2 separate regions of the Homo sapiens genome follow, and region 1 is linked to region 2. The links come from fine-mapping of genetic effects on gene expression. A gene starts in region 2. The other region holds a variant in brackets. All regions are shown on one strand. Distances are from middle to middle. Region 1 overlaps DIP2B (disco interacting protein 2 homolog B). Region 2 holds the start of ASIC1 (acid sensing ion channel subunit 1).

Region 1 (2,908 bases), 610 kb after region 2:
TACACCTAATTGCATAATTGATCCAATATAGAAACATAATGAAACCCATTTTCCATAAACCTAATCATGAAAATACTGGTTTTACTGTCTTTTTAAAATTGGGTTATTCTGATTTTAAACTTAAACAAATTAAAATACATATAAATGATACAATAAAATGATACAATAAAAGCAGCCCACAAATCCAATGGAGATTGTGGAATCTTGAGATAACTTACCTTGAAAATACTTTATTCTTAAGGTCAAATTCACCTATCCTAGGGGCCCTATCCCAACTTCCTCTCTGTTTTTTTTAACATGTTTGCTAAGACAGGAATATTTGTGTCCCGGGGTACAGTTGAAATGTTAGAATATTTTCTGAAAATTACACAAAATGCTTTCCTTAAAGGGGTACAGATGTGATTACTTCTTTTTTTCTTTAAATTTTCTTTTAATCACCCCCCTTTTGCATGATAGATCTCATTCTTCTTTATGGACCTCATCACTTTATCTCTTTGGGATCTGGTCACTATTTATCTCTCCACCCTCATTTTTTTCATTTTTTTGCCTTACTCTTCAAAGTCTTTGCTCTATGTACAAAGAAGTACTTGAAATCCCTGACTGTGGTTGGTTCCCATCCTGCGAAACCCTTTGATTACTCCCGTTTCTTAGCATCTGTTTTATTCTTTTGAAATTATCTGTGGGCTTCTGTGTCTCCTGTAAGCCTTTTTAGGGCACTTACTGTGTCATAAGCACTCATACACTTCACAACCCCTAGGACTTGACATAGTTCCTGGCACATGTTGTGATTAGTACTTTTTAAAAAGCAAAAACAGTCACAGGCTTCAGACCTTCCTCAATATGAAATAATAAGTTGGAGGTAGTACAGAACAAGAAGCAAGGGTATAGTCATTATATAACTTTCTGGGTTTTTTGTTTTTGTTTTTGAAATGGAGTCTCACTCTGCCTCCCAGGCTGGAGGGCAGTGATGCTATCTCTGCTCACTGCAACCTCCGCCTCCCGGTCTTAAGTGATTCTTGTCTGCCTCAGCTTCCCGAGTAG[C/T]TGGAATTACAGGTGTGCACCACCATGCCTGGCTAATTTTTGTATTTTTAGTAAAGACAGGGTTTCGCGATGTTGGCCAGGCTGGTCTTGAACTCCTGACGTCAAGTGATCCACCTACCTCGGCCTCCCAAAGTACTGGGATTACAGGCCTGAGCCACTGCATCCGGCCCATTATTTTAACTTTCTCTCTTGCTCTGGACCTGCAGAATTTGACTTCTAGATTAGATGAGTCTTTTGTGGTTCAGGTTCCCATTGTGAGGTGCCAGCAGTTTTCCAGCCCCATTGGTTATGTATTTGGCTCTTTGAACCAAAGCAGAACATGAACCTACAGTGTCACCTGAGTTAGACGGAAAGGGTTCTGCAGTACTAACCACAGAATGTTTAATTTTTAAAAACAATGAAATTCAATCCACAAGTTGTAAATCATAACACCCAGAAATCATTTAGAAAGGTTTATCTCACATTAGACCAAATGCCCTCTTTAACTGCGTGCTTCATAAGCTTAGAACCCTGAAATAAATTCCTGACTTCTGTTTTCCCCGGCTTTTGCTTCCCTATATTTGGTTGAGTTTTTTTACCCACCCCCCACCCAGCACGCTTTTCTAATTTAGGCCTATTTTCCTGAAGTCAGAGCCAAGCTGAATACAGACATAAGTGGATTTCTCACAATTCTTCTCCAGCTGAAAATTAAAGAAAGAAATACTGATGCTGTGCCTTCTCCTGTCATGCTTGGAAAGCTTACCTGTGCACCCTGACTGGCTGCCTTTCCTACTAAGGCCATGAATAAGTCCAGGCTAAGGATTGTTTACGCCACTTCATTCCCTAGCACCTAGCTCACTGTTTGGCACGTATGTTTTTTGTTTTTTGTTTTTGTTTTTGAGTTGGAGTCTCGCTCTGTTGCCCAGGCTAGAGTGCAGTGGTGCGATCGTGGCTCACCGAAACCTCTGCCTCCGAGGTTCAAACGATTCTCCTGCTTCAGCCTCCCAAGTAGCTGGGATTACAGGCATGCACCACCATGCCTGTCTAATTTTTTGTATTTTTAGTAGAGATGGGGTTTCACCGTGTTGGCCAGGCTGGTCTTGAACTCCTGACCTCAGGTGATCTGCCTGCCTCAGCCTCCCAAAGTGTTGGGATTACAGGTATGAGCCACCACGCCCGGCCTGGCACATACGTTTTTAGCAAGAATTAAGTTTTTATGTCTCCCTGTCAAGATCATTTCCTTAGAGACTAATAAGTACTTTGTCAAAATCAATGTAGCAACATACCACAAGAAGAGATTCAGGAAGACATATAAGTACTTCAGTATTATTTGAACATAAGTAGATGGACTAGAAAAATTTAGATACTGATTAAGCTTACAACAGAAAAGCAGGGAATAAAGTTTAAATGTTTTGAAAGAGTTTAAAAGAAAACAATTAAAAATTACCTATGGAGTTAGGCTATTTTATTTTTGTAGGCTTTGGTCCATAGACTTTTCCTTGAGATTCTTGAGAAACTTTACATATTAATCTACCTTAAGAATGCGAATGTTTTGCTGGTGTCGAAACTGAATGTGTGATCAATGAGCAAGAACTGAAAAGTCTCTGTTCTAGGTAGGATCGAGAACTTCTTTTTTTCTAATTCCACACAGACACATCTTCGGCCTCTGAGGATGAGGGCTCTCTGAGACGCCAAGCTGCGCTCTCTGCTGCCTTGCAACAGAGCTTACAGAATGCTGAGTCCTGGATCAACCGTTCAATTCAGGGATCGTCCACTTCTTCATCCGCATCTTCTACGCTGTCCCACGGAGAGGTCAAAGGAACCAGTGGGTCTCTAGCTGATGTATTTGCCAATACTCGAATAGGTAGGAGCTGGATCTACCCAAGAA
Region 2 (2,908 bases):
GACCTCCCTCCTCCACAATCTTAAGTCCACTCTCCCACTAGGGACCTCCAGACCCCTTCTCTGGTTTCCTAGATGTCCACTACTCCCAACTTCTCATCCAACTTCTTTCCAATGTGCCATCCCCTTCTCGTTACAGGTTTTCTTCTAACTTAAAGCCCGGCACCATGTCCTAGGAATACACCTCTCACCATCCTTCTCCCCGAGCCGCACCAGCCTGCAAGTAGAGCGAAGGAGCCACTAGAGACAGAACTCTGGTCCCCCGCACCCTCCTCCTCATCATCTGACACCATCAGACCTCAACAGCCTCTGTGCTAAGAGCCCCTAATGAGCATCAGCAAATTAACAACTTCCCCTTGATTGCTCCTTCTCTGTTAATTGGATAGGGAGGGCCCCCCTCCCCAAGGCCTCTCAGAGAAGAGGAGGGAGGCAGGGAAGGAGAAAGGTGAGAGCCACAGGAGCAGCCCCCAGGCCTGCGTTCTGTGCTGAGACTTCTGCTCCATCCCTGAGCATAGCTCCCCGTTCCAACCCTTCCTCACCCTGTCCCCTTCACTCCCTTTGCCTCCTTCCTTCTGTCCAAATTCCCTTGACCTCTGGCTATTTTTCCTTCCTTTTCTCTGCTCCTTCTTTGGAGATTTGGCAGTAAGGGGTTGCGACCATGCCCCCCACAAGCCCAAAGCTACAAGGATGGGATCTGAGTGGTCAAGGCTGCGTGTTGGCTCACATATGTGCACGTGTATATGTGTCACATGCAGGTGGGAGCAGGGATAAGAGCAGGTGAGTGCTTGCCATGTGGGTCAGGCCCCCGGGATACGTGGACATCTGTTGCGGGGGGGTGTGGTTGTGAATGGTGTGGTGTGACTCTGGTCGGTATGTGTGTCTGTCTCCATATGGGCTAAGTGCTTGAATTAGTCAAGTGTGACTCGGAGCGTGTGTGTGTATGTGTGTGTGTACGCGCGTGTGTGCCACCAGAGGAAGCAGCAGCAAGAGGCAGGAGCATCGATCCGAAGGAGACAGCGCGGGGAGAGGGACGCTAGGGGCAGACACCCTCCCTCCTGCGCGCACACACGCGCGCGCGCACACACACCACACACAGAGTCATACACACAAGCCATAGGGCCTCGCAGGCAGGGAGACGGCTCCGGGACTGGAGAGAGGCAGCGCCGCCGAAAGCGGCCGCGAGGAGGGGCGAGGCGGCGCGGGGAGCCCTGGGTCCCGCTCCCGGATCCGGGGCCCCGCGCGCACACCAGCCCAGAGACAGCCTCGCAGACACTCGTAGGCGCGCACGCGCACCCTCTCCCCTCCCCCTCCCCTCCCGCCGCCTCCCGGCCGGACGATGGATCCCTGCAGATCCCAGGGCTGAGAGCACCGCGCACCGCGCCGAGCCCGGGCAGACCGAGCCGAGGCGAGCGAGCCAGCGAGCCAGCGCGCGCGGGCGGGCGGACAGATCGGAGCCGAGCGGGGCCGGGCGGGGCGCTCCCTGCAGGGCTCTGCGCGGCGTGCCGCGGCGGCCGCGGGCTCCGGCCCCGGGCCATGAGCCCCTCCGCGACTCGGCGCTGAGCCCGCCACCGGTCCAGCGCCCCAGGACCCGCCGCCGGCTGCCGGCTTGCCGAAGCCCCCTCAGGTGGGTTTCCGATACCCCTGCCTTTGGCCGCGAGGCTCCTCGGTACCCCGAAGCCGGGACTCTCCTCCCTCTGGATTTCCCTTGCTGCTGGGGCGGCTCGGTGGCTGGGGAGGGGGGCGGGGGCCGAGCTGGGGATCTGACTGCGACGAGAAGCTGGACTGGGGGGGGCTGCGTCCGGGGCGGGGACAGCTCGCTGTCATAGGGAACCGCGCCCCCCCTCCATACATCCACCTCGGGCAGCCCGCCACCCCCCACTCCCAACATACACACAGCCTGCGCTTATGTGAGAACTGGAGACACCCGCAGGTGAGGACTCAGGCTGGGCCCCTCCCTAGATGTAGCCACCTCCCTGGGGGTTTTCTGGCCCCAGTTTAGCCCTTAGGACCACAGCCCCGTCCAGGGAATACCCGTGACCAGGACAGGAGCTCCTTACCCCGGGGTCAGCCCATCTGGGTGAGTTTTCATCTCCAGGATGGGGTGGATATTCTTGTCCCAGAGTGACCCCACATCTGGAGGGAACTCCTGCGCCTGCCTATGGGTGCATCAGGACTTCCCCCTCAACCTCGGATGACTATATCTGGGGTCTCCCCGGGCCTGGGAAGCTTCTCTGGGGAGCATTCTCTTGGCCTGACCTGACCCCCTGTGCCTCTGTATTTGGAGGAACCCTGGATGTGTCCCTTGGTCAGCCACCTCTGGGCTTGCAAAGCAGGGAAGTCTTCTGCCCGAGGAGTGGTGACCTCTGGAGATGAGGATTCTGGATGGGCACATGTGGAGGGGCTCCATGTGTACTTTCATCCCAGGACAATGATAGACTGTCCCTCCCTCCTCCCCCAGGATCCCCTCAACAAGGATGGAACTGAAGGCCGAGGAGGAGGAGGTGGGTGGCGTCCAGCCGGTGAGCATCCAGGCCTTCGCCAGCAGCTCCACACTGCACGGCCTGGCCCACATCTTCTCCTACGAGCGGCTGTCTCTGAAGCGGGCACTGTGGGCCCTGTGCTTCCTGGGCTCCCTGGCTGTGCTGCTGTGTGTGTGCACGGAGCGTGTGCAGTACTACTTCCACTACCACCATGTCACCAAGCTCGACGAGGTGGCTGCCTCTCAGCTTACCTTCCCTGCTGTCACGCTGTGCAACCTCAACGAGTTCCGCTTTAGCCAAGTCTCCAAGAATGACCTGTATCATGCTGGGGAGCTGCTGGCCCTGCTCAACAACAGGTGGGTGGCTCCCACCCTCCCTCAGCCCTGCTCCTGGAGTTGCTTGAGTTCCAGTCAGGATGTCTGCCTCCCTGA

The links. PIP is the estimated chance that this variant, and not a neighbour inherited with it, causes the effect.
Region 1: its variant is fine-mapped to the expression of ASIC1 in whole blood (TOPMed, PIP above 0.99).

What each region holds. Positions count from the first base shown.
Region 1 is chr12:50,668,515-50,671,422 of GRCh38, forward strand. It overlaps DIP2B (disco interacting protein 2 homolog B), which reads left to right. Exons shown (of 38, transcript NM_173602.3): 5 at 2,672-2,884. Among named protein-coding and RNA genes, the nearest start is that of ATF1, 94 kb to the right of the region's middle. The variant C/T (reference allele first, on the strand shown) is at 1,042.
Region 2 is chr12:50,056,296-50,059,203 of GRCh38, forward strand. It overlaps ASIC1 (acid sensing ion channel subunit 1), which reads left to right and starts at 1,301. Exons shown (of 12, transcript NM_001095.4): 1 at 1,301-1,621; 2 at 2,456-2,833. The coding sequence starts at 2,472. RefSeq lists silencers at 1,104-1,263, 1,334-1,503.